2 separate regions of the Homo sapiens genome follow, and region 2 is linked to region 1. Evidence: fine-mapped expression QTL. A gene starts in region 1. The other region holds a variant in brackets. All regions are shown on one strand. Distances are from middle to middle.

Region 1 (11,598 bases):
GAGGCTATTTTCTAGATCTTGTAGGCATGCTTCATTGTTTTTTATTCTTATTTCTTTTGTCTTCTCTGACTGTGTATTTTCAAGTAGTCTGTCTTCAAGCTCACTAATTTTTCTGCTTAATCAGTTCTGCTATTAAGTGATTTTCATGCATTCTTCAGTATGTCAATTGCATTTTCAACTTCACAATTTCTGCTTTTTTTTTTTTTTTTTTGAGACAAGGTGTCATGTTGTCATTCAGGCTGGAGTGCAGTGGTATGATCACAGCTCACTGCAGCCTTGACTTCCCAGGCTCAGGCAATCTCCCACCTCAGCCTCCTGGGTAGCTGGGACTACAGGCATGCACACTATGCCTGGCTAATTTCTTGCATTTATTGTAGAGACAGGGTTTTGTTATGTTGCCCAGGCTAGTCTCGAACTCCTGAGCTCAAGCAATATGTCCATCTTGGCCTCTCAAAGTGCTAGAATTACAGGCATGAGCTACTGCAGTCAGTGATTTTTTAAAAATTATTTCAATCTCTTTGTTAAATTTATCTGACAGAATTCTAAATTACTTCTGTGTGTTATCTTGAATTTCTTTGAGTTTCCCAGAATAGCTATTTTGAATTCTCTGTCTGAAAACTCACATATCTCTGTTTTCCCAAGATTGGTTGTTGGTGCCTTAGTTAATTTGGTGAGGTCATGTTTTCCTGGATGGTCTTGATGCCTGTGGATGATATTCATCAGTGTCTGGGCATTGAAGAGTTAAGTATTTATTGTAGTCTTCACAGTCTGGGCTTGTTTGTATTTGTCCTTGGGAAGGCTTTCCAGGAATTCAAAAGGATTTGGGTGTTATAATCTAAGCTGTATTTGCATTAGGAGGCACTCAAGGCCCAGTAATGCTGTGGTTCTTGCAGACTCCTAACAGTACTGCCTTGGTGGTCTTGGATAAGATCTGGAAGAATTCTCTGGATTACCAGGTAGAGACTCCTGTTAGCTTCTCTTACTTTCTCCCAAAGAAATGGAGTCTCTCTATCTCTGTGCTGAGCTACCTGGAGCTGGGTATGGAGTGATGTAAGCACCCTTGTGGCCACCACCACTGGGACTGCTCTGGGTCAGACCAGAAGCCAGCACAGCACTGGGTCTTGCCCGAGTCCCACTGTAACCACTACCTGGCTACTGCTTATGTTTACTCATGATCCTAGGGCTGTGCAATCAGCAGGTGATGAAGCCAGCCAGGGTTGTGTCCTTCCTTTCAGGGTGGTGAATTCCCCCAGGCCTTGGGTGGGTCCAGAGATGCTGACTGGCAGCTAGAGACTAGAGTCGAAAACCTTAGAAGTTTACCTGTTCTATTCTACTGTGGCTAAGCTGGGCCTCAAACCATGAGACACAGCCCTTCTCATTCTTCCTTCAACTTGCCACAGGCAGAGGAGCTTCATCCCATGGCCACCACCACCACAAGCCCATGAGGAGTATTGCCAGGTTACTGCTGATGTTCACTTAAGGCCCAAGGTCTCTGAAGTCAGCTTGTGGTGAACGCTGCCAGGCCTGGGACTCATACTTCAGGGCAGTGGGCTCTCCTCTGGTCCAGGGCAGGTCCAGAAATGCTGTCCAAGAGCCAAGGTCTGGAATTAGGGACCCCAAGAGCCTGCCTGGTGCTCAACCCTACTGTGGCTAGCTGGTGCCTAAGGTACAAGACAAAGTCCCCTTTACTTTTCCCTCTGCTTTTCTCAAGTAGATGGAGTCTCTCACTGTAGCTACCAGAGCTGGGAATGTGCTGGATCTCACCTGAAGCCAGCACCTCTCAGAGTCTCACCCAAGGTCCACGGCATACTGCCTAGGTATCACTGCTGGCTACTCAGGACCCAAACACTCTTTAGCCAGCAGGTGATGGTTCCTGCCAGGATTGGGTCCCTCCCTTCAAGGGAGTGGGTTCCTTTCTGGCCCAGGGTGTGTCTGGAAATGTCATCTGGGACCTAGGGCCTGGAATGGGGGCCTCATGACTCTGACCGGTGCCCTGTCTTACTGTGGTTGAGCTGGTATCCAAGGTGCAAGACAAAGCCCTCTTTACTCTTCCTTCTCCTCTCCTCAAGTGGAAGAAGGAGGTCTCTTTTGGCAGGAGCTGTGTTGCCTGGGGATGGGGGAGGGGTGGCACAAGCACCCCCTTAGCTGTCCTAGCTTGTGTCTCAGTAGGTAACACGCCCCCCAAGTCCACTTGGTCTGAGCCCAGCTCAGCACTAGGATTTACAGTTCCCGTGGCCTAAACTGCCTTTCAAGAATATTTAGAGCCTCAGAGCACTCCAGTCTGTGGTGTGGCGAGGCTTGCTGGAACTTGAGTTCTGACTGCTGGGATGGATGATTCCTCTCTATCTAGAGCTGGTCTAAATGTTCTCTCAGTGGGCAGGCGTTGGCTGAGTTCAGCCTGGTTTTGCTTTCTGCTGTGACAAGGCAGCACTGAGTTCAATGCAAAGCCTCACAACCGCTGCTTTCTCCCTCTCCCAATCACACAGATTTCTCCATGCCAAGTGGCTGCTGTGGATGGGTGGGGAAGGGGTAGCATCCACAATTCAATACTGACTTTCCTCTTATAGACTGTTGGTAGGAGTGTAAATTAGTTCAGCCATTGTGGAAAGCAGTGTGGTGGTTCCTCAAAGAGCTAAAAACAGAACAATCACTAAACCCAGCAACCCCATTACTGGGTATATACCCAAAGAAACATAAATTGTTGTGCCATAAAGACACATGCACACGTATGTTCACTCCAGCATTATTCACAATAGCAAAGACATAGAATCAACCTAAATCTCATCAATGGCAGATTGGATTTAAAAAGTGTGGTACATATACACCGGGGAATACCATACAGCCATAAAAAAGAACAAGATCATATATTTTGCAAGAAATGGATGGAGCTGGAGGCCATTATCCTTAGCAAATGCAGGAACAGAAAACCAGATATGGCATGTTCTCACTTACAAGCTCACTGTGAGCTAAATGATGAGAACACATGGACACAAAGAGGGAAGAACAGACCCTAGGGCCTCCTTGAGAGTGGAGGGTGGGATGAGGGAGAGGATCAGAAAAAATAACTATTGGCTATTGTTATGACATGACTTTACCTATAAAACAAACCTGCACTGTACCCCTGAACCTAAAATAAAAGTTAAAAATAAAAAAGACTCTCTTTCCTACCTCTTCAGTGCCTCTTCCAGTAATATGAAGTTAAAACCAGTTACTGTGAGTGCTCACCTGATTTTTGGTTCTTAGAAAGGTGCTTTTTTTGTGCGTACATAGTTGTTGAATTTGGTTTTCCTACAAAGGGGATGATCGGGGCCTTCTATTCCACCTTCTTGCTCCACCTCTTCCCAGTTTCATTTTTGATTGTTCATCTTCCTCTTATAAACTTGAGCTACTTGTAGACTGGACAATGTCTTATTCATCTTTGTTTTCCTGGTGCCCAGCATGATGCCTGACAAACAGTCTATGTTCAGGAAATATTTGTTGGCCTGAATCAAACCACACTAGACTACTAATGAATATTTTAAAATTTAATTTTCACAGCTACCCTGGGCATAGGTATGTTTGTGCCCAGAATAGTTTTCTTTTTATTTATTTATTTTTTGAGATATGGTCTTACTCTGTTGCCCAGTCTGGAGTGCAGTGGTGCCATCATAGCTCACTGCAGCCCCGACCTCCTGGGCTCAAGCAATCCTCTCACCTCAGCCATCCAAGTAGCTGGCACCACAAGTGTAAGCCACCACGCGTGGCTAATTTTTGTTTTTTTTTTTTGTACAGATGGGGTTTTGCCATGTTGACCAGGCTGGTCTCGAAATCATGAGTTCAAGTGATTCTCCTGCCTCGGCCTCCCTAAATGCTGGGATTACAGGCATGAGCCACCATGCCTGGACAAGAAGTTTTATATACAAGTTTGACAACTGATTAAAGTGCTTGTGAAAGATACAGATTCCTGGGCCCCACCCTATAAATCCTGATACAAGAGATCTGGGTAGGGTGGTTGGAGCCTGGGAATCTGCACTTTTGACAAATGCCTCAGATGTTTCTGATACAGCTTGGGAACCAAAGGCAGCTTGTAAACTAGTACATTCAATGCTTTAAGCACTTCACATTGCCCTTGTATTTCAGGCTCTAAATGCCTTGAAGCTTGATCTGAAAAGAATATATGATCATCCTAACATGTAGGTTTACCAAAGATGGTAAACTAGAAGATGGTAGACTTCTTACAAATCTTGAGTTCCAAATGGCTACTCTTCTTGGTGGGTCTGAAGATTTCTGAGAACTCTCTGACCCAGTCACTGTAAGAGACCTAACAAAGAAATTGTATGGAAGACAGAGATCGAGAAGGATTTACTTGCCTTAGAAGAGCTTTCAGAACCTGTTAACTGTTTACAGATTAACGCTTTAAAGAAGATGGGTTAAGGAGAGGAAAGGAGATTAAATGTGTTTATAGAAGAACAACAAATGCCTAGCACTTAGGGAGGCTGAAGTGGGTGGATTGCTTGAGTTCAGAAGTTCGAGACCAGCCTGGGCAACATGGTGAAACTCCGTATCTACAAAAATTACAAAAATTAGCCAGGTGTAGTGGCTTGCACATGTAGTCCTAGCTACTTGCGGGGGCTGAGGCTGGAGGATTGCTTGAGCCCAGGAGGTGGAGGTTGCAGTGAGCCGACATAGTGCCACTGCACTCCAGCCCGGTGACAGAGCGAGACCCTGGCTCAACAACAACAGCAACAACAACAAAAAGAAAAACAACAAAATGCCAATACACATATGAGAGATTACAATTTTCCAATAAACAAAGAAATGCTTATTAAAACCACATTGAGAAATGAGGGGAAAAAACCTGTAAACTGTCTGCAAATGTGAATTCACCAGGCAAAAATTCATAATAAACTAAATGAGTAGGTGTCCCTAATTTTAAGTCGGTTGTCAGGGATGAATGACTAGCATTGTTAATTACACTTGTAATAATGTGAGCATCATTTTGCCTGTGTGCTTTGTGCCACCTCTGCCAACACCCTGGGATCCACCCCAAATCACTGACCACAACCTTAATCAAGACTGCCTAGGCCGGGCATGGTGGCTCACGCCTGTAATCCTAGCACTCTGGAAGGCTGAGGCATGAAGATCGCTTGAGTCCAGAGTTTGAGACCAGCCTGGGCAACATAGTGAGACCCCATTTCTAAAATAAATAAATAAATAAATAAATAAATAAATAAATAAATAAATAAAATTAGCCAGGCACTGTGGTGTGTGCCTGTAGTCCCAACTACTCTCTGGAGCCTGAAGTGGAAGGATCACTTGAGCCTGGGAGGTCAAGGATGCAGTGAGCCATGATCCTGCCACTGCACTCCAGCCTGGGCAACAGAGCAAGACTCCATCTCTAAAAAAAGAAGAAAGAAAGAAAGAGAGAAAGAAAGAAAGAAAGAAAGAAAGAAAGAAAGAAAGAAAGAAAGAAAGAAAGAGAAGATGCCTATCCAGAGGAATCCACCAAAACAAAACAAAACAAACAAAAAAAATGAAAAAAAAACCAGAAATAACAAAACATTTGTATTGTATGTTACACATGAAGCACATTAAGTGATTTCCTTTGTTCATTGTAACCTTGTGAGGGAACTGGATTTTTGTCCCTATTATTCCCATTGCATAGATAAATAAACTGAGGCTTGACATGCCCAATAAGTCACAGGTAGTAAAAGCAGTGCGTTAGCTTAAATCTCTGATCTCCTCACGCCCCACACTGACTCAACAGTAACAATACATTACTACAAAGGATGTCTGTGATGACAGTGGCCATCCCATTTGATCCTCGTTATTCTTCTTTTATCGAAGGAAACTGAGAGTCACCTTCTTTTCTAGGCAGTTAGGTAACTGAAGCCGAAAGGTATTGTGACAGATCCACTGGGCTGTAAAAGGCAGCGTGTGGAGGTGGAGCCCAGAGTTTCTGCCTCCACAGTTAAAAGCTCAGACAGGGCTTTGGGAGCAGGGCCTGCAAATCAAAGATGAAAGAACAACCTGTCTTGGAGCGCTTGCAGGTAAGCTCAGGCTGCTCGACTGGCGGGGAACAAGGACCTTAGGCGATTCGCTAGATCTGCGCCCCCGGCCTTAGATAGAAGTGGGTGGGGCCAGGGACACTACATCTAACGAGGATCTAGAATAGCTAGGATTTATGAAATACCGGCTTTCAAGTTCTCTGGTCTCCACCCAAAGATGATTATCCTATCTAAGGTAGTGTACGCTACTACAGGGCAGGTCCCGCAGCCCCCGTTTCAAGAGCTGGGATGCGGCCATAGCGGAGGTGGTGTCAGAGCGGAAACCTAGCGGGGGTCGGGGGTTCAGCTCGGGGCGGTGGGAAACACCCCGGGAGAGGAGGCAGCTCTGATTCCGCTCCGGGCCGGAGGGAGAGGAGTTCGGAGGTGGCTTGAGCTGAGAATCCGGAGGAGAGAAGGCGCGTTTTGAGCTGCCACGGGCACAGATCTCAGACCCGGACGCTGACTAGCCGGGGGTCGCGGCTTTCCGAGGCGGCTGGAGAAGTGCCCAGACGGCCGTCCCTCCGCGCCCCTGCGCGTCCCCGTGCGCCCAGTGTTCCCCGTGCAGGAGTCCCGGAGCGATGACAGCGCCGGTTACGGTAAACACCCGCCCCGCCGCAGTCCGCTTCCTTCCCCAACGCGGCGCCGCCCGGACTTGCAACCTCAGGAGTCCCCGCTGGCTCCTCTCCACCGCTGGCATATGGCGCAACAGGAAGTTCTGGGGGCTTGGAGAGGGAGGGTGCTCCTGGCTGTTGGGAGAGCACTGGAGACGCTTGGGAGAGTAGTGGAGATCCTGGTAATTTCTTGGTCTCGCCTATTTTGTCTGGACTTTCTCACACTGTGTATGAAAAATAAGTATAATTGAGCACATTGTATTTCAGGAATAGTCCAGGCAGCTTAGCAAACGTTAGCTCATTTCAGCCTGCTCTGATAAGAACATATGCTCTGGAGCCAGGTAGCCTGAATTAGCATCCCAGCTGCATCACTACCTGTGATTTTGGGCGAGTTAACATCTGTTCTTCGGCTTTCTCATCTGGAAAATGGGATAATACGATTTGTAGTTTCAAGATGAATTGAAATGCTACATGCCATTTGCACTTAGAATAATGCCTGACGTATTTAGCAGGTTGTAAGAGTTTGGGATTCTTAACTATTTCATCCTGGCAGTAATCCTATAAAGTCCAAGTATCCTGTCTCTCCCATCTCCACCGGTTTACAGGTGAGGAAAATGAAACCAAAGGAGAAAAGCAGATTTGAGATTTGAACTCAGGTCAGTGCTTTAAGACACGGAGAACATAAAAAAGAAAAAAAAAAAAGAGAAAAAAAGACACTGAGAACATAGATGTTCTAGTCATACACATCATTTGTGATTATTTGTTCTAGGGAGAAATGATCACCTTTAATTGTTAAAGTGGGAAACGAGTTATTCAATTTCTTTCCCCCTGTATACAGATTTTGATGTTTCACTGTCATCTGCTTTGGGTTCTTACAGGACTGATAAAGCGTTAGCTATTTTGGCCAGACTGGAATCTGGGCTTGACTTTAAGAATCTGGTTGTTTCTTATGTTTCCCACCAGGAGTGGTAACCATCTAGGGTAGGAGTTAGCATGAGTTTTGTTTTTTGGGCCAAAACTGGAGACTAGTACCCTTTGGTAGTGTTAAACTTGTCTTGATAGACAAGGGCATGAATAGCATTTGAGATCATTATACCAGAGGTGAAGGGAAAGAATCGTGCAATATGTTGCAATTTGTCACAAATTTTGGTCTTATCTTGCCTATTTACAATTATCTATCATAGTTAATTTTTTGGATAGGACATCTATGCCAAAACTATCAAGCATTTGGTAAATACTGTGCCTGAAATATGGCTTCTCTCTTTTTCCTTCTTTTTCAAATTTCTCACTTTTTATTTTATTTTATTTTTTTGAGACAGAGTCTCGCTGTGTTGCCCAGACTGGTCTTGAACTCCTGGGCTCAAGCAATCCTCTTTGGCCTCCCAAAGTGCCAAGATTACAGGCCTGAGCCACTGTGCCTGGCCTCACTGTGTTTTAAATCATGAGTTTTCAGTATAAACAGCCCAAATAATCTGAGTGATTTTCATTATACTTCTGGTAGAATCAATACCATGCTGGAACTGAAAGTGACCATCCTACCTATAACTCAGTTATTCCTTTGTGACACATCAGAAGTCTACATGGCAACTATTTTCTGTAAAATCCATCACTGTTAGGTAAGATATTATGATGTGAGTCTCACTAGTGCCTTTTTTCTTTACTTCTTAGTTTTATTGAAGTTTTACGTTCTCATTGTTCAGAATCAATTAATTCCATAGGGTTAATATCTAAAAACAGTAGAACCCTCCATCACTTCCTGCTTTTTAAGAGAAGTAATCATGTTCATCTCTTTTAACTAGTTACTATTTGTCTGTATCTCTAGATATTCCTTATAATTGCTCCTTCTTGGTTTTTGAGGTTTAGTCATCATGCATTGACTTTCCTGCAAGAAATGTGTGGATTTAACTCTTTTCTGTTTTCCTGCCACTACCACTTACATGCATCCTACCTATTCCTTCCATAGATCCTCTGAATATAGTTATCTCATAATTTTTGGTTAGGTCAATATTTAGTTAGGTCAACATTATTATGCCTCCCTACATGCTATTAAAAGCTTTCTTCCTTGTTTTTTTCCAGAGTTGTCTCTCTGTGTTTGCAAAGTTTTCACCAATTTAACCACAAGTTCTTTGTTAGTTGTCTAAATCTTCCCTCAAGATGTCCAATGCAACAGCTATTTGAATCAATTTTATTTCTATCACAGCTTTCTTACCTGCTTTGCCAGTCCAGACTGGTTGCTCTTGATGTTTGATGCACAGCTATTACCTTGGGCTCTCTCTTCACCATCATTTGGGGACTGATTCACTTTGCATCTCTGTTATGCTGGCTCCTGTTTCCTATATCCCACACCTTAGTCTTTTTTGATTTCTTCTATCATTTTGATGGAGCACATTCTCCAGTAGCTTTCTAAGAAAAGGTACATGTAAGGTAAACAGAATTGAATATGTTTTTTTCCTTGATTGTGTATCACAGAAAATAATTCTCCAGATGTTTTTCCCTTAAAAACTTTGTCACTAACAATATAAAAATAATTTCTTGTTGTAAATAATTCAAATACTACAAATAGAAATCCAAATAGAAAGTTCCCTTTCTACCCCTCAACTACTCCCCCTCTGACCCAGAGGTAATCAAACTGTTGATTTGGAGCATATTATTTAGATGTGCTTTTATATACGTATGTATGTATGTATGTATGTATGTATGTATGTATGTATATATGTATTTATTTTTGAGACAGAGTCTCGCTCTGTCTCCCAGGCTGGAGTGCAGTGGCACGATCTCAGCTCAGTGCAAGCTCCGCCTGCTGGGTTCACACCATTCTCCTGCCTCAGCCTCCCGAGTAGCTGGGACTACAGGCACCCGCCACCACGCCCGGCTCATTTTTTGTATTTTTAGTCGAGACGGGGTTTCACCTGTTATGCAGGATGGTCTTGATTTCTTGACCTCGTGATCTGCCCACCTCAGCCTCCCAGAGTGCTGGGATTATAGGTGTGAGCCACTGTGCCTGGCCATACATATGTATTTATTATTTTGATTTGTGCATTTATTTATTTATTTACTTTATTTTTTGAGATGGAGTTTTGCTCTTGTTGCCCAGGCTGGAGTGCAATGGCACAATCTTGGCTCACCACAACCTCTGCGTCCCAGGTTCAAGCGATTCTCCTGCCTCAGCCTCCCAAGTAGCTGGGATTACAGGCATGTGCCACCATGCCCAGCTAATTTTGTACTTTTAGTAGAGACAGGGTTTCTCCATGTTGGTCAGGATGGTCTCGAACTCCCGACCTCAGGTGATCCACCCACCTCGGCCTTCCAAAGTGCTGGGATTACAGGCATGAGCCACTGCACCCGATCTATTTATTTTAATTTAATTTTATTTTATTGAGATGGAATCTTACTATGTTGCCCACGCTAGTCTTGAACTCCTGAGCTCAAAGGATCCTCTTACCTCAACCTCTCAAGTATCTGGGATTACAGGCACATGACACCGTGCCTGGCTTTGCATGTGTTTTTAAATAAATTGAATCATATTGTATATATTGATCTGTAACTTGTTTCACTTAACAGTAGTTCCTGTAGATTTTTCCATGTCAATACACATTAGTGCCTTCTTGAATAGTATGTTCAGATGAACTGGAGTGATCAAGATCATAGGTATAGCATTTTCTCTTCACAATCAGTCACAAATACTGACCGAGTGTTATGTGCCAAACTGTCTTCCAGAATCTGGGAATATACAGTGAATAAAACTTTTATTTTTGAGATAGAAAGGGATAGTGAGATGCTTCTCGATGAAACTGAGCTCAGTTTCAGCTTTAATTTGGTTTTCCTTTCCTAGAGTGCAAATATACAATCACATCTCTTTTTCTCTTGGTATAAAATCACAATCATTAAAAATTGAGCTAAATACCTGTTGTGCCACCAGACCAACAGAACAATACCACTGACATAGAAATAGATTTTCTGGATGGATAAACAAAATATGGCATATATACACAAGGGAATATTATTCAGCCTTAAAATGGAGGGAAATTCTGACACATGCTACAACATGGATGAACCTTGAGGACATAATGCTAAGTAAAATAAACCAGTCACAAAAAGATAAATACTGTATGATTCCACTTATGAGGCATCTATAGAAATCAAATTCATACAAACAAAAAGTGGAATTATGGTTGGCAGGGCTAGGGGAGGGGAAATGTTTAGTTGTTTAATGGGTATAGAGTTTCAGTTTTTCGAGATGAAAAAGTTCTGGAGATTGGCCGCACAACAATGTGAATATACTTAGCAAAACTGAGCTACACACTTAAAAATGGTTAGGATGGTAAATTTTACATTATATATTTTACCACAATTAAAACAAAAATGGAAAAAGAGATTCTCACACAGACTCCTTTGTAGTGGGCTTTGTCTTATACTTTGAATAGGTGGTTGAATCTGCTTTCAGCTGGATGAATACTCAGTAGTGGGAATGCAGGATTGAATGGTAATTCCATTTTTAGTTTTTGGAGGAACCTCCATTACTGTTTTCCATAACGGCTGTACTAAATTACATTCCTATCAACAGTGTATGAGGGTCTCCTTTCTCTGCATCCTTGCCAGTATTTGTTAATTTTTGTCTTCTTTATGATAACCATTTTAACTGGAGCGAGATGATATCTCATTGTGGTTTTGATTTGCATTTTACTGCTGATTAGTGATGTTGAGCATATTTTCATATGCATGTTGGCTGTTTGTATGTATTCGTTTGAGAAACGTTGATTCATGTCCTTTGCCCACTCTTCAGTGGGCTTATTTGTTTTGTGTTTACTGTTGAGTTGTTTGAGTTCTTTTAATATTCTGGATATTAGTCCCCTGTCAAATAAATAGTTTGCAGATATTTTCTCCAACTCAACAGATTGTCTCTTCATTTTGTTGATTGTTTCCTTCACTGTGCAGAAACTTTTTAGTTTAACATGGTCTCA
Region 2 (11,598 bases), 26 kb after region 1:
CACACTTCGCAAGCTTCCCAAGGTCACTGAATTTAACGACATCTTCTGGAGGGTGGGTGTGGTAGGCATTAAAGTTGGCTGTAAGTTTAGAAATTGAATGCATTCCAAACTACCCTTGAAAAGTCCCTTTCATTGAGCATAAAATACAGTACATGAAGATTTTATCTTGTGTTGGAACTTTCTTCAGTTGAGTACCAGATTAAACAGGGGATCTAGAATCTACTCATTAAGATGAGGTATGCAGACTAAGATATGCATGTGGGAACTGAGACCATCTGGGGAATGGTATATTCTTGCTCTCACAGACTCCACTCTAGTGTCTACACACAGTCACTTGTGTGCAGTAGTTCTCTGTATGTGGTCCAAGGACTCCTAGAGGTCTCTAAGACCTTTTCAGAGGGTCCTCAGAGTCAAAATTATTTTCATAATGGTACTAAGATGCTATTTGCCCTTTTGACATATTTTCTCATGAGTGTACAGTGGAGTTTTCCCAAGGGTACATGATGAATACACAATGATCTAAAAAGGCCATTAAAATACTCTCCCTTTTCAACTACATGTCTCTGTGAGGCAGATTTTCTTTGTATACTTCAAGCAAAACCACTTATTGCAAAGGATTGAGTGCAGAAGCAAACATGAGAATTTAGCCATCTTTAGCCAGACATGAAAGAGATTTGCAAAAACATAAGACAGTGCTCTGTTTATGAACTTTTTTGGAAAATTTTTGTGTTAGCATGTAACAGGTTAAAATGAACTAATAAGTAAATATTTTTAAATGTCTCAGTTTTAATTTCATATGTGGTAAATATTGGTAGACATAATTTAAATAAACAAAATACTTTTTGGAGTACTTGGTAGTTTTTATGATTATGAAAGGATCCTAAGCTCAAGAAGTTTCAGAACTGCTGCTTTTGGAAATAAGATACTCCTGAGGCTGGATGCGGTGGCTCACGCCTGTAATCCCTGCACTTTGGGAGACTGAGGTGGGTGTATCACCTGAGGTCAGGAGTTCAAGACCAGCCTGGCCAACATGGTAAAACCCTGTCTCTACTGAAAATACAAAATTAGCCGGGTGTGGTGGGGCATGCCTGTAATCCCAGCTACTCAAGAGGCTGAGGCAGGAGAATCGCTTGAATCTGGGAGGTTGAGGTTGCAGTGAGCCGAGATCACGCCATTGCACTCTAGCCTGGGCAACAAGAGTGAAACTCTGTCTCAAAAACAAAAAAACAAAAAACAAAAAACCCCCCCAAAAAAATCAAACCTACTGATAGTGGAATGACAGTGAAACTGCCCACACTATTAAAACTGTTTTTCTCTCTGTCTTATTTTTCACCTTCTAGCCTTCTCTCATTCTTTTAGCAAAGCTTTTGAATTTGTCTAAGTTACACACGTGGTATGAGTGTCCCCCAAATTTTAAGGAGCAAAATCCAGTTGTGTCTTCTTTGTGCTGTGCTATACTGAAAAAAATAAGACAAATAATCTCCATTGTCTATATAAACCTTACTATGAATGTCATAAATAAAATTTAACCTGTAACTTCTTTTTAAAAATGTTTCTATTTTTTATATTATTGGACGTAGACACGGGGTCTCGATATGTTGCCCAGGCTGGCCTTGATCTCCTGGGCTCAATGATTCTCTAGCCATGGCCTCCCAAAGTGCTGGGATTCTAGGCGTGAGCCACCATGCCTGGCCAAACATGTAACTTCTAATAAAGGCTTTATTGTCTGAGAGGTTGGTAAGTTTCCTAAAAGTCAATTATTTAACAGTATATTTTCCCCAGTCATGGTGGTACATATCTGTAGTCCCAGATTCTCAGGGGGCTGAGGCAGGAATATCACTTGATCCTAGGAGTTCAAGGCCACAGTGTGCTGTGATCACGCCTGTGAATAGCCACTGCACTTCAGCCTGGGCAACATAGCAAGACTCTGTATTAAAACAAAAATAAAAGCATAGTTTCATGAGCCACTCCAAAAAAGACTTTATTTTAGGTCATGTAGTTTATTTGCATGTAGTACTAGTAAAGTTTTGGATAATTTAACAAGATATTTGGAGCATAAATGAAGACCATCTGTGTACATAGATAACAAATTTGTGAGCATTTTGGAGCTTGGAAATTGGAGAGAATTGAGTGCATGTAGGTGGAAAATCTAACCAGATTAGAGTGGTTGTACTACAAATAGGCCCAGCATTTGGTTAAATCTCTGTATTTTACTATCGAGGGACAGTTGTAAAGTACACTCATAAAGGAGACTTCCATTTCCTCTTCCCTTTTTATCAGAATGATTTAACAAGATCTGAAATTATAAATGTTTCATTTGCATGTTTTATTCCCCAGGAGACTGGTTAAACCCTGAAGCGTGAGTGACAACTGAGGAAAAGGATGTCTTTCGCTGCTATTTTGAAATTGGGTTTTGGGGCTGAAATAATGAGGGCTTCAACCAATTTGGAAAGAGGAAGGAAGGGGTATGATATCACTTCACTTTTCACCTTTCTGATGCACTTTACTTGGAAGGTTACTGTTGAGTTCCTCTAATCCCCTATTTGGCTCCAGGAAGATTTATAAATGTTTTACTCCTTAACTCTTGAGTTTATATAATCTAGAAATTCATTCTGACGTTCCATTTTTTTTTTTTTTTTGAGAGGGAATTTCTCTCTCATTGCCCAGGCTGGAGTGCAGTGGCACGATCTCAGCCCACTGCAACTTCCACCTCCTGGGTTCAAGCGATTCTCTTGCCTCAGCCTCCTGAGTAGCTGGGATTACAGGCGCCCACGACTGCGCGTGGCTAATTTTTTGTATTTTTAGTAGAGACAGGGTTTCATCATGTTGGCCAGGCTGGTCTCGAACTCCTGACCTCAGGTGATCCACCCACCTCAGCCTCCCAAAGTACAGGGATTCAGGCATGAGCCACTGCACCAGGCCTCATTCCAAGGTTCTAAATGCCTTTGCTTAGCAAAGCACTATGTGAAAATGTTAGTAAAATTTCTCAACTACTCAGGAGAAATGGCGTTTTAGGGAATTGTGAATTATTTAGTTGACATTCAATTTTTAGAGATGTTACCAAAAATAAATTACTACCAGCTAAATAGTGCTCACCTTTTACCACCAAAGTGAGATGAAGGTGTAAGGTTACTTTGTGTTCTCTGCCTCCTGGACAGACTATTTAGTGGAAAATCAGTCAACACACTTTCTGGTAGTGTTGGTGGAACAGGAACTTGGTTTTTAGATATTTTTAGCCTGGATGCTGTTTTTCTGAGACTGCCCCTCTCGGATCAAGTGTCAGGTAGGTATCCTTGCAGAATTTGGACAGATAGAAGGCCCTGAGCTGACACTTGAAAGTGGATGGGCTGGCTTTGCACTGATGGATTCCCTGAGCCAACAGATTGATTGATGGTACATCCTGATGTCCATCTACCTGGCACTTTGAAGGGATTCTTGCTTCAAGGGAGGCACTCTGAAGAAAAAATAACAAATGTTGATCTGGAGTCTGAAAATATTGTCTATTTGACCCATTCTAGTGTTGTGAATTCCAAGATAAATAAAATAATGCTCTCTTTTGAAGTGGATTACAATAAGGTTAAGAGAGAGAGAGAGATGGTCCAGTGAATGCAAGTAAACATTGTTAGTGCTGTGATGTGTGTAAGAGAGAATGCAGGAAATCAAAATCGGAGTCAGTTATCAGTTCCACTGAAGAAGTAGTTGTTAGATGATAGATTTTTTTTAAGGTGCAAAAAAGTTGTAGAAAGAAAACAAATGACCTGTTATCTTTGTCTCCCTTTACCTCCAATCATGCAAACTTGTGGATGTTTTTTTAAAAAAAAAAAGGTTGCCGGGCGCGGTGGCTCATGCCTGTAATCCCAGCACTTTGGGAGGCCGAGTTGGGCGGATAACAAGGTCAGGAGTTCGAGACCACCCTGGCTAACACGGTGAAACCCCATCTCTACCAAAAATACAAAAAAAAATTAGCCGGGCGTAGGTGGTGCATGCCTGTAGTCCCAGCTACTCAGGAGGCTGAGGCAGGAGAATGGCGTAAAACCCGGGAGGCGGAGCTCGCAGTGAGCCGAGATCGCGCCATTGCACTCCAGCCTGGGAGACAGAGCGAGACTCCGTCTCAAAAAAAAAGTCACTTTTTTGAAGATTAAGGAACATCTGTGAAATTATGCCTTCTCAGAGAGTACCCCAAGATAATTTATCTGGGAACCCTAAAAAGCCATAAAGTGGAAATACAGTTTGAACATCCCTACTCTGAAAATCTGAAATGTGAAATGCTCTAAAATCTGAAACTTTTTGAGTGCCATAAGCGGGAAATTTCACATCTGACTTCATGTGGCAGGTGGCAGTTGAAATGCAGTTAAAACTTTGTTTCAGTCATGCACAGTGGCTCACGCCTGTAATCCTAGCACTTTGGGAGGCCGAGGCGGGTGGATCACTTGAGGTCAGGAGTTTGAGACCAGCCTGGCCAACATGGTGAAACCCCATCTCTACTAAAAATACAAAAATTAGCTCGATGTGGTGGCAGGAACCTGTAATCCCAGCTACTTGGGAGACTGAGGCAGGAGAATCACTTGAACCTGGGAGGCAGAGGTTGCAGTGAGCCGAGATCGTGCCATTGCACTCCAGTCTGGGCAACGAGAGAAACTCCGTCTCAAAAAAACAAAACAAAACCAAACAAAAAACAAAACAAAACAAAAAAACTTTGTTTCATGCATAAAACTATTTATTTATTTATTTAGAGACAGAGTCCTGTTCTGTCACCCAGGCTGGAGTGCAGTGGCATGATCTCGGCTCACTGCAACCTCTGCCTCCTGGGTTCAAGTGATTCTCATGCCTCAGCCTCCTGAGTAACTGGGACTATAGGCGCCCGACACCACGTCAGCTAATTTTTGTATCTTTAGTAGAGATGGGGTTTTGCCATGTTGTCCAGGCTGGTCTCGAACTCCTGACCTCAAGTGACTTGCTCGCCTTGGCCTCCCAAAGTGCCGGGATTACAGGCGTGAGCCACCACACCCGGACAATTTTATGTATAAATTTTTAAAAAATATTGTGTAAAATTACCTTTTGTCTGTGCATATAAGATGTATATGAAACATAAATGAATTTCACATTCAGACTTGGATCCCTCCCCAAGGTATCTCACTATGTTAGTCTGTGAACATTTCTTTGCAATTCCCCAGCCTGACCTCAGGCCAAAGATTAGATATAAAATCTGATTATGTTTTAGGATGACACAAATTGAGACCAACACACCATTTCCCTTCTTTCTCCTTTGCCTTTCCCTCCCCTAAATTACAACAATTAAAAAGCAAAAAACATCCAGTCGATGAAGACTGCCATGATAGCTGCAGAAATGTCAAAATCCTTACTCTCAACTACCACGACCACAACAAATTTGCTGCTCTAGTGGCAGAAGCTAGCACACTTGGTGTTTGTCCTATCAGAACCAACAAACATTTGGTTCTCTGTTGAACTGAACATGGAGGCCTCTCGGAAGTGTGCTGGAGAGTATATTGCAAAGGAACTATTACGAGGTTGGCAGGGTGGGAAGTAAAGTTCTAAATTGAGAATTATTTGAAACATTTTCAAGCTAAAGGCTGCTTTTTTTTTTTTTTTTTTTTTCTGGTAGTTTTGAGATAAGATAACCGGAGTTGAAGGAGGAAAGTTTCCACATTCTTGTTATGACACGGGCTTCCTGTTTACACCTTTGGAGGGAAAATAGTATACATGGGTTCCTGAAGTTCT[A/G]TTTTCAGCATGTTTGTTGCTCATTCAACAATCATTGGGTTAGGCCCTGGGGCAATAGAAATGACTGGCATGGGGCCTATAGGAGTTGGAGTCCAGGGAAGATGTGAGCCTGTAAAGGTCATTAAATCATAGTATGAGAGGAACTGTGAGGGAAATTTGGAGGTCAGGAGGCATTATTCTATGAAAAAAAAAATACATCAAAGTTAAGTTCCCAGACCATTAACCCAAAGCCAGTTTTTACTTTTAATATTGCTAGTAATAATACCTGAGCTTTATTCAGACTTAATAAGTCCCAGGAAGAATTCTAAACCTTTATCTAATCCTTTCAATAGTTCTATGAGGTACTATTATTATCCCCATTTTGATAGACAAACAGGCATGAAGAAATCGAATAATTTGTTCAGGTAGTCCTACTACAAAGCTGCCATTCAGCATTTTGAAAGAAGTGAATGGTTGAGCACAGCTTGCCTATTTTGTCTATACAGGCTTCTACATTAGATACCCTTTTAGCATCTGTTTTTAATAGTTAATTGGCCTTGAACTTGTCCCAGAGGCATGAAAAATACAAAAAATTAAAAAAATAGTTAATTGGTGCACATAAAGTTTAATGATATCAGTTTCTTATCTGTTTCCTCCTTTTTATTCTAACTTCCTTGAGAGCAGGAACTTTGTCTCGTTTGCAATAGAAGTCCCAGCATGCAGCGTGGGGGCCTATTCAAAATATTTGTTGAATGAATTCATAGATTCAGGTATTTTGAAATTCAGAATGAAGAATTCTTTGAGGACATACTGACTTTTTGTAACATGTTTGTCAGTGCTTTGCAAAAATTAGGTATTTAATAAATGTTTGGAGAATGAATAAATGAAATTGTTAACGTTTTTGAATAGGGGACAGGGCTGACTGATTCAAAAAGATAGTGTCATTTCTTTCTTTCTTTCTTTCTTTTTTTTGTGACAAGGTCTCACTCTGTCGCCCAGGCTAGAGTGCAGTGGCACAATCATGGCTCACTGCAGCCTCGACTTCCTTGGGCTTAAGCAATCCTCCCACCTCAGCCTTCTGGGTTGCTGGGAATTATAGGCACATGCCACCATGCACGGCTGTTTTTATTCCTGTATTTTGTAGAGACAGGGTTTCACCATGTTGCCCAGGCTGGTCTGGAAGTCCTGGGCTCAAGTGATCCACCTGCCTCGGCCTCACAAAGTGCTGGGATTACAGGTGTTGGCCACTGCGCTCAGCCGGATTGTGTCATTTCTTATTGAAATATAGATTTTGAATTCCCTGTTCATTTAGTTCCTTTTAAGTTCTGTGATTCTGGGTTGGGTGTGGTGGCTCATGCCTGTTATCCCAGCACTTTGGGAGGCCAAGGCAAGCAGACAACTTGAGTTCAGGAGTTTGAGACCAGTCTGACCAACGTGGTGAAACCCTGTTGCTACTAAAAATACAAAAATTAGCCAGGCATGCTGGTGCATGCCTATCATCCCACCTACTCAGGAGGCTGAGGCAGGAGAATCGCTTGAAACCTAGAGGCAGTGGTTTCAGTGAGCCGAGATTGCGCCAGATTGCAGTGAGCCAGGCTGGAATGCCTGGGCAACAGAGCAAGACTCCGTCTCAAAAAAAATAAAAAAATAAAAATAAATAAATAAATAAATAATTACATTGTATGACTGGGTTTTCCCAAGTTTTTTAGTGTTTTGCCAATTTAGTGAATGTCTTTTAATACATAGAAAATGCTGCTGAGCATGCAAAAAGAATAAGAGAGTAAAATGATTTAAGATGACTCTGGCCTTGATCTGGGAAGTTTTCCTTGTTTATAGGTAAGATTTAAATACACAGGAACCCATCAACTAATCTCTGTTTTTCTCCTTTCTATTTTACTTAAAAAAGTCTGGACTTCCATTATCTACAGTTCTGTTCAGTGATGAACACTTACGTTTAGGATTGGTGCATGTTGGACAAGATCCACTGAGCTTTTTTTGAGGATAGTGTGATAATGAGGTACCACAGCTGGATTTGTAGCATATTTTCTGGCCCAGTGCATTTCCTTCCACAGTAGAATGGGAGTAGATATGAGTGAGGTGGGGACTGCACTGACGTGGAGTTTGAAAAAGCTCCCTTTTAGAAAGCCTTCCTTTCATCTCTGTTCTAATATCTATGTGTGTATAAAGTAATATGGACACATATTCTTTTTTTTTTTTTTTTGAGACAGAGTCTCGCTCTGCCACCCAGGCCAGAGTGCAGTGGTGCAATCTCGGCTCACTGCAATCTCTGCCTGCCAGGTTCAAGCGATTCTCATGCCTCAGCCTCCTGAGTAGCTGGGATTATAGTTGCCTGCCACCATGCCCAGCTAATTTTTTGTATTTTTAGTAGAGACGGGGTTTCACCATGATGGCCAGGCTGGTCTCGAACTCCTGACTTCAAGTGGTCCACCCGCCTTGGCCTCCCAAAGTGTTGGGATTACAGGCATGAGCCACCACGCCCAGCTAGGACACGTATTCTTATACCATTTACAGCCAAAATATTTTTATATTAGAACTACTCACAAGTAGCTGGGATGTATAGTCCATCCAGTGTCCTCTGCCACTGGACTTGTAATATAGCTTATGGAGGAGCTTGGCTATGATATGGATTCTGTAGAATGGGAGAGAGTTTATTAGGAGGAAGAGTGAGTATCAACATCTCACTTGGATTTAGGGACAGTTCTAGGCTGTGCAACCTGAAACAACACACCCAATGGTAAAACTATGCTTGCAGAATGTGTATCGAATCTTGCTGAGTCACATCTCTTCTCTGACACTCTTTCCAGCTTCCTGTGAAATCTTAGCCAAAGTGGGACTTGATGGGTAAAAATTTTGAAGTTTCGGGAGCTTGGTATTTATTCCATAGGATTATGGTACAAGATATAAAAGTGACTTTTGGCAGATTTAAGAGGATATATCAGTTACATCTTTACTTCCTTGCTAGGGGTTTGTTCATGTAGGGCTTTTGTTACTCAAAGTGAGATTATGGGCATATTCACTTTGCGTGTCGTTTAATGTTCACATTTGGCTTATTTGTGCCTATGTTATCTGTAATAGAAACTGGTAAATGCTTAGCCTGTGTGGGGTTGGTCTTGGCATTTTAATTAGCATTCATGATACTTGAGTATTTCTTACCTGCAGGAACTACTATGGTTACATTGTTTTGTCACATAATTAGAGTATAAAATAATGACACTTTCTTTTTAGTCCCAGAAATCCTGGATTAAAGGAGTATTTGACAAGAGAGAATGTAGCACAATCATACCCAGCTCAAAAAATCCTCACAGGTAAAATTTTCAATTACCTTCTTCTTTTAAAAGCAACACTACCTGATGGACTATTTATAGAAACTTAGAAATATGACTTGTTTAGAAGTTTTGATCATATCTATAAAGTTAGAATTTTCAATGTTTATTTCTTTCACTTTATAAAAATAATACATGATTATTGTAGAAAATCTGGGAAGAACAGGGACCTTGTCCATTTTTACCTTACTCTTACTCCAGTGTCTGTGACAGTGCCTGCCACATAGTAGGCTCTTGATAAATATCTGTGTTTTTGTTTTTTTGAGACGAAGTCTCGCTCTTGTCCTCCAGGCTGGAGTGCAGTGGCGCAATCTCAGCTCACTGCAACCTCCACCTCCTGGGTTCAAGTGATTCTCCTGCCTCAACCTCCCGAGTAGCTGGGATTACAGGCACCTGCCACCACGTCCGGCTAATTTTAGTATTTTTAGTAGAGACAGGGTTTCACCGTGTTAGCCAGGATGGTCTCAATCTCCTGACCTCGTGATCCACCCACCTCGGCCTCCCAAAGTGCTGGGATTACAGGCGTGAGCCACCGAGCGATAAATATCTGTTTAAGGAATTTAATGAAGTACAAAGAAGTTATTCTTAATGCCGTCACTGTTAATATTGTCGTGGATTTCATTCTACTTGATTCTTCTGTTCCTCTTGATGGGAGGATAGACGTTACAGAAATATCTAGTGTTACATCCATTTCAGTGGGTTGGAATCAATAAATTACATTTTCTGAATACTGAATATTCAAAATATTGTGAATGTTTCTTATCCCCAACTAAAGTATCTGTGGAAAATAGTGACTGGTATATTTAAGTACACTGTGCCCAGATTAGATGAACAGGTAATTTCAGTTCCGTTTTCCTTCCATAGACTTTATTTTTATGGAATGCTTTATGAATTTGCATGTCATCCTTGAGCAGGGGCCATGCTAATCTTCTCTGTATCATTCCAATTTTAATATGTGTGCTACCGAAGTGAGCGCCCATAGGCTTTTGGATTGAGCAGATAATCGGTAGCAGAATGGAATAATTTGAGTTTGACTACTGAGTTCTTGACAATGCTTTGGAAGCTCTACTTGTAAAACAAAGGTCAAAAAAGCAACTAGTGAAAGATAGGGGAAGAAAGGGCTATGGAAAATTCCTCTGGGTAATCAGGTCTGTGAAATTAAGATTGACATTGCCCTTGGAAAAATTAATTAAAAGGAAAATAGAAGAGTAATATTTTAAGTAAAGGAACCAACCTATTTTTAGATTTTTTTGGGCATTTGTCCTTATATGCCTTTAAGGTTTAGAACTCATAACTATGTGTTATGAAGGGTAGCAAGGTAAGGTTTTTGAAATTCTAGTTCTTTGGAGATGACTGAAATAGTGTTCTTTGCCTTTGTTAAATATTTACTAGTCCCACCCTTATTGAATTACCTATGATTTGTAAGTCTTGTGATTGGAAATTCTCTTTTTACCTGCTTAAGAAAGGTTTATAGTATGCCAAGATAACCTTGTTTTTCCCCTTCATTTTTTATGACATCATGTGGTGGTGACTGCAATGGAATGCAAGTTGATTCAGGTGGCTCATTTTGTGTCTGTGAATAAAAAAATCATTTTTACAATAATCTTGAATCTCAAAAAAAAAGTGATGAAATTACTGAGTCTTTTACTAGCCCATAGACTCAAGAAGAGTATCAACGATTGTAATTCCATGAATGTTCCAAGGCATGATGTACTTTTAGCAAGTGAAAAAACTGTCTCTATATTGTGGGATTGTAGATAAAAGTTAAGGTATGATTATGGCTATTTCTTCTAGCCAGCCTTTTTTTTAGATCCTAGTAAAATTCTCAGAATTGAGGCTTTTTTGCAGTTTTCTTCATTATTGGTGCACAGGAAGTGGGTGATAATTCACTTTTTAAAATATCGATAAAAGTTTGTTTTATTATTTTTGTAGCTCCCAATAAGAAACAAATCTGATACACTTGATTATAACATCTTTTTCCTTCTCATTTTCAATTTACTGTTGAAGGAAAGCTTCTGAGAAAAGGCATTCCCAAAAGGCTGGGACAGGAAGAAATAAAAGTCCTGAATATTAGTTTCTGAATAACTTAGAGCGGCCCTTATTTTAGGAACATTACCTTTTCTTCCATTATTTTAACTAGACTTCCCTGTTAATACTTCTTCACACACACACACACACACACAGACACACACACACACACACACATATTTTGAGACAGGATCTTGCTGTGTCCCCCACGTTGCAGTACAGTGGCATGATCTTGGCTTACTGAAGCCTCGACCTCCTGGACTCAAACAACCCTCCCATCTTAGCCTCCCAAGTAGCTGGGACCACAGGCACATATCAGCACACAGGGCTAATTTTTTGAATTTTTATAAGAGTCAAGGTCTCATTATGTTGCCCAGGCTAGTCTTGGACTCCTGAACTCAAGCAATCCTCTCACCTCAGCCTCACAAAGTGCTGGGATTACAGGCATAAGCCACTGTGCCTGGCCCAAAAATATAACTGATGACAACAGTGCTAACCCCTAAATCTA

What was found. PIP is the estimated chance that this variant, and not a neighbour inherited with it, causes the effect.
Region 2: its variant is fine-mapped to the expression of TRPM6 in whole blood (TOPMed, PIP above 0.99).

Annotation. Positions count from the first base shown.
Region 1 is chr9:74,882,255-74,893,852 of GRCh38, reverse strand. TRPM6 (transient receptor potential cation channel subfamily M member 6) reads left to right here and starts at 5,932. Exons shown (of 39, transcript NM_017662.5): 1 at 5,932-6,029. The coding sequence starts at 5,997. RefSeq lists an enhancer at 6,546-6,840.
Region 2 is chr9:74,856,115-74,867,712 of GRCh38, reverse strand. It overlaps TRPM6 (transient receptor potential cation channel subfamily M member 6), which reads left to right. Exons shown (of 39, transcript NM_017662.5): 2 at 8,965-9,044. It also overlaps the pseudogene RNU6-445P. Among named protein-coding and RNA genes, the nearest start is that of TRPM6, 26 kb to the left of the region's middle. The variant A/G (reference allele first, on the strand shown) is at 5,740.